2 separate regions of the Homo sapiens genome follow, and region 1 is linked to region 2. Evidence: fine-mapped expression QTL. Tissue or cell type: whole blood. Region 2 holds a variant in brackets; the other region holds the start of a gene. All regions are shown on one strand. Distances are from middle to middle.

The links. PIP is the estimated chance that this variant, and not a neighbour inherited with it, causes the effect.
Region 1: NPTXR starts here. The variant in region 2 is fine-mapped to the expression of NPTXR in whole blood (TOPMed, PIP above 0.99).

What each region holds. Positions count from the first base shown.
Region 1 is chr22:38,841,178-38,846,396 of GRCh38, reverse strand. NPTXR (neuronal pentraxin receptor) reads left to right here and starts at 2,369. Exons shown (of 5, transcript NM_014293.4): 1 at 2,369-3,162. The coding sequence starts at 2,539. RefSeq lists a silencer at 2,781-2,850.
Region 2 is chr22:38,764,737-38,769,955 of GRCh38, reverse strand. No RefSeq gene overlaps it. Among named protein-coding and RNA genes, the nearest start is that of SUN2, 11 kb to the right of the region's middle. The variant G/A (reference allele first, on the strand shown) is at 2,599.

The DNA of each region.
Region 1 (5,219 bases), 76 kb before region 2:
TTAAGGGGGGTCTCTCCCAGGACCCAGGAGAGACGAGTTTTGGGACTTCTCTGTCCTCTCCTCCTTCCTCTGCCTCCAGCAGTGGCATTAGGAACTAGTTCAGCAAACATTCACCGAGAAGCTTCCCTGGGCAGGCTTCATGCTGAATGCTGGGGATAGAGATGGGCCAAGGAAGAAGGGAGAGGCTGGGCGCCATGGCTCACGCCTGTAATCCCAGCACTTTGGGAGGCCGAGGCAGGTGGATCACCTGAGGTCAGGAGTTCAAGACCAGCCTGGCCAACATATTGAAACTCCATCTCTACTAAAAATACAAAAATTAGCTGGGCGTGGTGGCGTGCACCTGTAGTCCCAGCTACTTGGGAGACTGAGGCAGGAGAATTGCTTGAACCCGCAAGGCAGAGGTTCCAGTGAGCCGAGATCACGCCACCGCACTGCAGCCTGGGTGACAGAGCAAGACTCTGTCTCAAAAATAAAATAAAATAAAAAATAAAGTCATTCTAGGAGATCAACAGACCAGTTTAAACACAATTTGACTCCAGCCTCTGGACCCATTTATCCAAACTGTCCCCAAAGTCTCAGGGGGCAGCTCAGGTAAAGGTGGCACCATTTGGTGCCCAAGTCACAGTGGCTCTGCTGCTCTTGGCAGCAGCCCTCTCTCTTGGCATCTCCTGTCCTTCCCTGGACTTCCTATGACAGTTTCTCCTGGGGATGCTATCTCCGTGTTTCTGTCTTCACGGCACACGTGTAGATGTACCAGGAGTCCCGATGTCTCATGCATCCCCAGGACTTTAGCAGGGCCTACCGCTGGCCTTTGCCTTCCAAGAGCCCAGCCCATCTCTCTGTCCATGAGATGCTTCCTCCAAGCCCAGCTGCCTGCCCTGGGTTTTGAGGTTACGACTTCAGTGAGCACCAGCACACATCCACGCACACACAGCACTCAGGTTCCTGGCATACAGCGCTTGTGTTTGCTTCTCTCCTCTTTCACAACTCAGGTATGGATGAAAATCCCTGGCTCCTAGAGATGGGTGAACAGGGTGGACATCATCCTAACATGTGTGGAGAGAGGGAGGTGGAGCACGTGTGCCTGGGAACACTGGACAAAATCCCCGTGGCTGGAGAGCGTCCCCCAGGGTTGTGGCTTCCTGGGAAACATTCCGGTCTCTCCCCACCACCAGCGCTATGTGAAGTACACTCGAAACCACAGTGGTAGCCGTGGTGGTCCAGAGATCCTGGTTTGCGCTTTCCCTTCAAGTCAAAAATGCAGGCTTGGAAGGGAGACAGAGCTGGGAATAACCACAGCCCTCCCAAGGCCCTTCCAGCCCTGGGAATCCGTATTGGTCAGGAAAGACCTCATGGAAAATTGGAGCTGGGGATAAAGTGTGGAGGATAGTAGGATTGTTTTTAAGTTTTTAATTGCAAAGTTAATTTTCAACAAAATATATATAGACATTTTTGACAGAAGAAAGTAAAACGCTCCTCTGCCACCCCCACAGCACAGCCCACTCCCATTCCTGCTGTTCCTTCTGGGCCTGGTCCACATGCCCACCAGGCACGTGGCACCGCTTGCCAACGAAGGCAGACTGCAGTGGGGGTGGGGGGTTTCTCTGGACCTGTGAGGCTCTAAGCCCCCAAGGATTCAGAGGAGAGAATTTCCATCATCCTCTGAGATCACAGGAAGATTCTGTAATGAGGGTGGCGGGGAGTGAACTCTGCTCCTTCAGAAGGTTGGAGGTGGGGGTGACGGGCAGGTGGCCACAGTATAAACAGAAGTTAGGTCAAAATCCGAGCCTCCCCCCAACCCCCAACACTGGCCTCTTCTCCACCTCTAACCGCTCCCACTCCAGCCCCATCCACAGTCTGGTCCGGTGAAACGTGCCTAAGCTCGCAGGCGGCTCCAACGCAGCCACCCGGTGACCTTGGACAGAGGCCTGACCTCAGGTGTCTCAGTTTCCTCATTTCTATTGTGAGCCTGTCCACGGCAAGGCTCAATTGCGACCGAGCTTGTGGCGCGCCCAGTGCACAGCCCCACCCGGAAGAAAGCTCCCTCCCGGGTGGATGTGAACATAACCGGCTTGGGGAGGGGGCCCGAGCACGGGAGGGCTGGGATGGGGGTCACCCAGGAGCCCCGCCGCGCGGCCCTCGGGTCGCCGGCCCCTGCGCTGTGACCGCGGCGAGATAAGGTCCCAGGCGCTGCCCTCGCTCCTCGCCGCATCCCCGGCGGCGCCCCCAGCCGGGCGCCCGGCACTGAACGGGTGCGGGGCTGGGCCGGGGCCAGGGCCGGCCCGGGGAAGCGAGTGGGGCGGGGCCGCCGCGCCCGCTCCCCCTCCCCGCCGCCTGCCGTCTTCTCCTCCTCCCGCCGCCCGGGCTCAGAGCGGCGGCAGCAGCGGCCGCGGCGACAGCTCCAGCTCCGGCTCCGGCTCCGGCTCCGGCTCCGGCTCCCGCGCCTGCCCCGCTCGGCCCAGCGCGCCCGGGCTCCGCGCCCCGACCCCGCCGCCGCGCCTGCCGGGGGCCTCGGGCGCCCCCGCCGCCCGCCTCACGCTGAAGTTCCTGGCCGTGCTGCTGGCCGCGGGCATGCTGGCGTTCCTCGGTGCCGTCATCTGCATCATCGCCAGCGTGCCCCTGGCGGCCAGCCCGGCGCGGGCGCTGCCCGGCGGCGCCGACAATGCTTCGGTCGCCTCGGGCGCCGCCGCGTCCCCGGGCCCGCAGCGGAGCCTGAGCGCGCTGCACGGCGCGGGCGGTTCAGCCGGGCCCCCCGCGCTGCCCGGGGCACCCGCGGCCAGCGCGCACCCGCTGCCGCCCGGGCCCCTGTTCAGCCGCTTCCTGTGCACGCCGCTGGCTGCTGCCTGCCCGTCGGGGGCCCAGCAGGGGGACGCGGCGGGCGCTGCGCCGGGCGAGCGCGAAGAGCTGCTGCTGCTGCAGAGCACGGCCGAGCAGCTGCGCCAGACGGCGCTGCAGCAGGAGGCGCGCATCCGCGCCGACCAGGACACCATCCGTGAGCTCACCGGCAAGCTGGGCCGCTGCGAGAGCGGCCTGCCGCGCGGCCTCCAGGGCGCCGGGCCCCGCCGCGACACCATGGCCGACGGGCCCTGGGACTCGCCTGCGCTCATTCTGGAGCTGGAGGACGCCGTGCGCGCCCTGCGGGACCGCATCGACCGCCTGGAGGTGAGCGCCGCGCGCCGTCGGGGGAGCCGCCCGGGTGGTGTGAGGGGCCGCCCGGCCGCGGTCGTCCGGCGGTCCCCGAGCCTCCGGTCTCCCGTCTGTGTTCCGGGGACGATCGCGCCTTCCTCGCTGGCGAGGCGGGGGGATTTCGATAGGGAACGCGGGCAGGCGTCTGGCACGGTGACTGAGGCACAGAGGGCGCGCCAGAAAGATTCGCTCCCCACCCTTTTCCGTCTCCAGGCACCTCTCTGAGCCTCAGTTTCTGTGTCTGTAAAATAGGTATAACAGTGTCCACTTGTAGTGGAAATTGAATCAAATGTAGGTGTGTGAAAATGCTTGGCACGTACTAGGACCTCATTAAATGTCCCTTTCATTTCCTTCTTCCGGACACCCCCAAATCAGCCCAGCTCCACGCTCACACTTTATGGCCAGGAGATGGATGCGCTGTCCAAAGGACTTGGGGTCCTCCCCTCATTACACAGAGCCGGGAACAGAGTGCCCTATAAGACAAACCTGGGTGCCCCTCACCACCTCCCTACCCTGAATCTCCCACTCTGGCTCAGACTATGACCCAAACCGCAGGAGCTCAGGTGCCAGGCGCCCAGCCTCACACACCTGGAAGCCCACAGCTCTTGGGTGGGGGCTGAATGGAGAACAGGGCCCCCCGAGCTCCTCCTCCTCCACTCACTTTTCCAGGCTTTCCTGACTCAGGCTTGGGGTCAGACACAAGGGGTCCAGCATGGGGGAACCCACTCTTGGCTCTCATGTGACCCTGGGCCAGTCATTTCCCCCCTGGAGTCCCATGGCCACCTTCCTCCCTGTAAGAATGAATTTGGGGCTCCCAGAAGTGCAAGGCAGACAGACTGGGCAGGACAAACATCCGGGACACATTCACTACCCCAGCCATGGCCTGACTTCCAGACCACAAGGAAGGGGGTTAAGCAACAAAATCAGATCTGTGGAAGGAAGAGAGAGAAAGAGGCCAAAGCCCGCGCTGCCCCCTCTGCTACCTCCACCCAGGTGGAGTGCAGCAGGCAAGTTGGAGGGAGGAGAGAGGCGGGGAGTAAATGCAGGGACCCCTTACTCCCGGGGCTTTTTAAGTTAAATCCTGGGCAAGCAGCACTGGTGATGCCCACTCACAAGGCTGAGGATGTCGTGGTCTGACAGCCCTCCAGGACGTCTGTACTGGTGTCAGCACCCTCCCCACAGGGTGTCAGAGTGCAGCCAGTCAGCCATTGCAGCCAACCCCTCACCTTACGGATGAGAAAACTCAGCTCAGAAACGTCCTAAGAGAGGTGGCAGAGGCAGGAGAAAAGCCGGGCCCATACCCACCTCTTCCCCGACTCCAGCTCTGGGGGATTTCTAGGATGAGAGAACCAAGAGCAGGAAAATAATCAGGAAAAAGGTGAAAGTATGCAATGAAGGGAAGTCTTAGTTTTCTCGCCTGTAAAATGGGGATAGTAATAGCACCTACCTCACTGGGATATTAGGAGGATTAAGTACTTTATATGAAAGGCCAAGAATAGTGCCTGGCACACAGGTATGTTCAGTCAATTTGAGTGATGGCTATTTTTATCATTAAGCTATAATATTACTCATTTTTAAAATACAGCCAAAACTCAAAATAGGAACAAACAGGTTTTAGGCAACAGGTTTTAGTCATGTAAAAAACAATTTTTGACTTTCATTGAATAAACTTCCTCGTGCCTGCCATAGCCCCTGCCCCCACGCCCAGATGGCACAGGTGGCTCCTCCCACGTCTGGGGCTGGCAGGCTTGGACCTGCCTTGGACCTGTGCCCCCAGCACCTGCAGCATTTGGCAGGGTGGCCTCCCTTCCGGTTAGCCCGCTGAGGTTGGGGGGATCCTGGCAGCTGGAATTTGGCAACAGGTCAGCCTTCCAGGCTGGGGGAGCCCTGGCTTCCCCATGTATACCTTTTCCTCTTTTCTGAGTGCAGCAGCCACAGACAGAGAAGGGCGGGGCCCTGCTTGGCCACCAGGTCTGCTTTCTGAGCGTGGCAACAGCCACAGCTAGTCTTTTGGGGGCCTCTGGGAGGGGCTG
Region 2 (5,219 bases):
GGCTGGGCGAGACACATGTGTTATTGGGCCCACAGTGGGGAGCCACGAAGGGCCTCCTGCAGGAGAGGGATGCCACAGGGCCAGGCCTGAGGAACACAGGCCCCTTCTTCCAGGTCTGAGGGCCGGTAACCTGCTCTGCCAGTAAGGGATGGAGCTGGGCCTCAAGCTATGCTATAGGCACGGAGAGCAGCAGCCTCCTAAGTCAGCTCCCACTTACTTCTTGCCTGATGATAACCAGAGGGACCATGCTGGTTAGCGTGGCCTAACCTCCCAGCCAACAGTTTATCCACTTCCCTGGACAAAACCCAATGCTTCAACCTGACCTGCGAGGCCCAGCATGGCCTGGTCCCACCACCTCTCAGCAGGGCCCAGCTCTAATCCTCAAGTCTGGGGACCCAGGATCAGTGAGGTCCAAACCAAGTTGGCAGAGCCACCAAGCCAGGCCCCACCCAGCTCCACTTCCACATCAACAGGGGTGACCAGCATGACCTGCAGGACCTCCAGTGAGGGAGGATACTGTGGCCTCGGGTCAGCCAATTCCCCCCTCAGCCCCCAGCCCACGCTCCCTGTCCCCAGCCCTGTCCTCTCTGACCTCATCTCCACCTTGCAGTCCAGAAGTCTTGGGTACCCAACTGAGGCTGACTGTGACATGCCCCAAACACAGGCAGGCCCTCTTCAAGCCCAGGAGGTGAGGGCCTGGGTCGGGGGACCCTCTGGCTCTGCCATGGGCTTGCTGTGTGTCTCTGGGGCCAGCCGCCCCCTCCCTGGGCCCATCTCTTGTCTATGCCCCAAGGGACCCCTTTACGGTGCACTGTTCAGCAGAACGTTGGGAATCCCTGCACCCCTGCCCCTCTGGATAATACAATCCTCCAATCCTGCCCTGGCCGCATCCTGCTATTTCTCCAAGATGAGCTCCTTCCTCCACCACGCAGTCTCGCTGCAGCCGGCGGCGCAGGGCGACCTCTCATGGCCACATGTGGGCATAACGTGGCTCATCAACGGGGCGCTGGGAGGACACTGGGAGGGCTGGCCAAGCCCTGGGAGGACTTGGGGGAGACACTGGGAGGACTGCAGTTGAGGGGGCCTGCTGGGAGGGTGCTGGGGGGCTCACCTCACCCTTCTCTGAGGCTCAGCCTCTTCACACTCATTGGGCCCAAGTGAGAAAAGGTGTGGTGGCTTCGAGTCAGGCCTGACTTCCTTCTGCTCTTCAGTCACAAATATTTATTAATTAATTATTTATTTATTTATTTATTTATTTATTTATTTATTTTCTTGAGACAAAGTCTTGCTCTGTCACCCAGGCCAGGGTGCAGTGGCGTGATCAGCTCATTGCAACCTCCCCCTCCCAGGTTCAAGCGATTCTCCTGCCTCAGCCTCCCTAGTAGCTGGGATTACAGGCACCTGCCACCATACCCGACTAATTTTTGCATTTTTAATACTAATGGGGTTTCACCATGTTGACCAGGCTGGTCTCAAACTTCTGACCTCAGGTGATCCACCCACCTCAGCCTCCCAAAGTGCTGGGATTACCGGCATTAGCCATCGCATCCAGCCAGTCCAAGGCTTCTTGACTAGGGCAGCTGAGGTGGAGGCTCCCCCACCTTCTCGCCACTGCGCCCAGCCACAAATATTTATTGAGCACCTGCTGCATGCCCTACCTGTGTAGGTCCTAGAGCAGCCACCTCAGAGCAGGCAGGTCCGCACCTCGCTGCACCTGCAGGCCTGCGGGCTTCAGCTCCTCCTCTTCCCACTCCGAGCTCACCCCATGTTGCCGCTCAGTATTGCCGGTCTCACAGGGCCCCTGAGGGCAGAGGGGAAGGTGCTCAGGTCCTGTCCAGGGAGACACCTGGGACCTGGTGGTCCCATTGGCAATCATCACCCACCTCTTCCTCCCACTGCTCTTGCCTCCACACTCCGAGGCCCCTCCTTTCAGAAGGTTATTCCAAGAGCTCCCACCTGGGTGCCCAAATCTCATTGCCCCAGTGCTGCTGTCCATGCTGGGTGCCTCTCTGGGAGCTCGTGGGAGTGACTGGTTCATCCTCTTCCCCCAGGGGATAAGATAATGGAATTGGATGGGGAAGCTCTGGGGAACACTCCAACATTCCCTCCACAGCATCTTCGGATTCTTCACTTAGGTTTGCCTAAAGTGGGGCAGTTCTGAGCTCCCTGCAGGGGAAGGGGGCTCCCTACCCGCTGTAGGATGCACAGGCCCCAGCATCTGCGTTTAGGGAAAATGCAGGCAGGGCCAGCCCCTCTTGGCATCCTTTTTGTGGCTGGGAGTGTCACCTATAGAACAGAGTCCACCCCACCCTGCAAGCCTACAGTCACCCTGAAAAGGGACCCTGGCCTGCTCCGTACCGCCCCCTCCTCCTCAAAAAACAACCCCCTCCCAGGAGCGTCCCTCTAGAACCGCGTACAGCTGTGGGTGCACCTGAGGAGGCAGGGCGGGGAAACAGCGGCCAGGTGCGCTGCCAGGATCATACAGCTAATGTGGCCAAGCAGACAAGTAAGTCCAGAGCAGGCTCAAAGCCTCGTGTTCTTGAGGGATCCAGGCCCATTTCCCCCAACTGTAGAATGGCCTGCCTGTGGGCTGTTTGG[G/A]GAAGGAAGCCAGGGGAGGAAGGGAGGTGGGCATGTGCACAGCCCTGAGCCATGTTCTCACTGTGGCCTATCCACAGCCCCTCAAGGCAGACGTCACTACCCCACTTTTAGCAGGTAAAGGAGCGAAAGCCCCGGGAGGTGAAGCTGCGCCCATGGTCTGTCTGGAAGGTGTCCCTGGGGCTGTGGAAGGCGTGCCGCGGTGGCCCCTCCACCCAGGACCAGCAGTGGCCATCCCTGGCCTAGCATGAGTGCCCCTGCCCTCTGCCAGGGTATCCTGACGTCAGTGGGACTCCGGAGCAGAGGGCCAGGGAGGGAATGGGCCATGCAGCTAGCTATGTTTGGGAGTGTTCCAGGCAGGTGGATCACCTGAGGTCGGGAGTTCAAGACCAGCCTGACCAACATGGAGAAACCCCTCCTCTACTAAAAATACAAAATTAGCCAGGCGTGGTGGCACATGCCTGTCATCCCAGCTACTCAGGAGGCTAAGGCAGGAGAATGGCTTGAACCCGGGAGGCAGAGGTTTCGGTGAGCGAAGATCGCGCCATTGCACTCCAGCCTGGGCAACAAGAGCGAAACTCCATCTCAAAAAAAAAAAAAAAAGAAAAAAAAGAGGAGCGACCTGAAGCAGGACTAAAGAGACTATAAGGACATTACGTGATTATGTGAGTCCTGGTGTGACCCCACAAATCCCTCTTCTCTGCACCAGAGGACAGCCCTGCGGGGTCTCACTCACTGGGAACCCCATGCCTGGCACAAGATAATGAAAGCAGTCAATGGCCATGCCCTTCTCTTGGAGAACAGAGGCCCAGAGAGGAATATGGACTGAGCCAACATCCTTCCCTGAGTTCAGGGTGCACATGGGGCCATGTCTGCTGACAGCCCTTCGGCCTTTCCACGAGACCCGAGCCTATGAGACATCAATCCCCCTTCCCTGGGCCCAGCCTGGCCAACCACTGCCCCAAGACTGGGGTGGGCCCGGGTCCACCGGAGCTCCTCAGCCAAGCTATGCCCATGACTCTCCCAGCTGCCCCTAGGGGGAGACAGACTCGCCTGCTGTGCCTGGGTCGGAAGGATTCCCGCTGCTCATCCTCATCCTGGATACAGGTGGCAGGCGCCAAGCCAGGGTGAGTCACAGGGCAGCTGGCCAGGCCAGTTGTCTTTTTTTTGTTGTTGTTGTTTTTTCTGTGGCAGCAGAATCCCTTTTTTCAAATCAATTTGCCCAGGGAACCCCAGTGTGTCAACCAGAGCAGAACAGCTCTAGTCGAAGTAGGGGGAGTCGGCAGGGATCCTGTCCTCAGATCTTAGGGAACATTCTGGCAAACTGCTGTCTGGCCACCTCCTCATTCTACCTGTGGGCCAGTGAGGCTCAGAGAGGTTTGGGCTTTGAGTAGTTGGTCAGAATGGCTGGCAAGCAACCAGCCCACCTACCTGTAGCCTGTCCTAGAGCACTGGATGAGAGCAGGGGCTACTGACTCCCAGCTCATTGGGTGGCCCCTGAGCCCCACTGAGCCCCACTGGAGTCCCCTGTGGCCCCTTCCCCAGGTTGACAGAGCCTTTCCCAATCTGAGCACTTCCAGGGTGACAGTGGCTGCAAGGGCTACATGGTGAGCCCCCCACTGTTACCCCAAGTGGCCTGGGGGAGCCCCTTTCCTACCTTTTCTCCAGGAACCTTCAAGGTCCCAAGGCCTAGCAGAGCTCCTCAGGAGTCTGTGTGTGTGTGTGTTTCGATGTATCCAAGTGTGTCTGTGTGTCTCTAATGTATGTGTGTCTATGTCTTTGTGTATCTCTGTATGTGTCTGTGTGGGGTGTGTGTGCACCTGTGTCTGGAGGTGAACAGAAACCCCTCTTCGTCTCTCCTGAGCGCTGAGAGAGCAGGTGAGAGCCTCCCCTGGGGTGTTCTGTCCTCTGTCACCGTCCATGACCTGGTGATGTCTATGAACCACCACAAGTGAGGTTCCCAGGACTTTAGACACAGACTCAGAGTCTTAGGCCTGGGGAGGGCCCAGGGATACTCAGCCCCACCCCTTCTTGATGCTAAAATGTGCGGCACAGATTATTCATTGAGTCATACTATTTTATTTTATTTTATTTTATTTTATTTTATTTTATTTTATTTTATTTATTTATGTTTCAGACACAATCTTGCTCTGTCGCCCAGGCTGGAGTGCAGTGGCATGATCTCGGCTCACTGCAACCTGCACCTCCTGGGTTCAAGTGATTCTCATGCCTCAGCCTCCCGAGTAGCTGGATTACAGTCGCCCACCGCCACGCCCGGCTAATTTTTGTACTTTTAGTAGAGATGGGGTTTCACCATGTTGGCCAGGCTGGTCTCGAACTCCTGACCTCAAGTGATCTGCCCACCTTGACCTCCCAAAGTGGTGGGATTACAGGCATGAGCCACCACACGCAGCCAAGTCATAATATTTTAAATGATTTTTTAAAAATCATTTGAAATAAAAATAATTTCATTTAACCTTCGTAGTAACCCCACAAACACTCTTGTCCTCTGAGAGGTGGGTGGCTGATGAGGTCCTGTAACGCATAAGGGGCAGCTTCTGTGGACGAGGTTCCACTCCCACACCTGAGGCATGGCTGGTGGGGTCGGGGTGGCCATCCTGCTG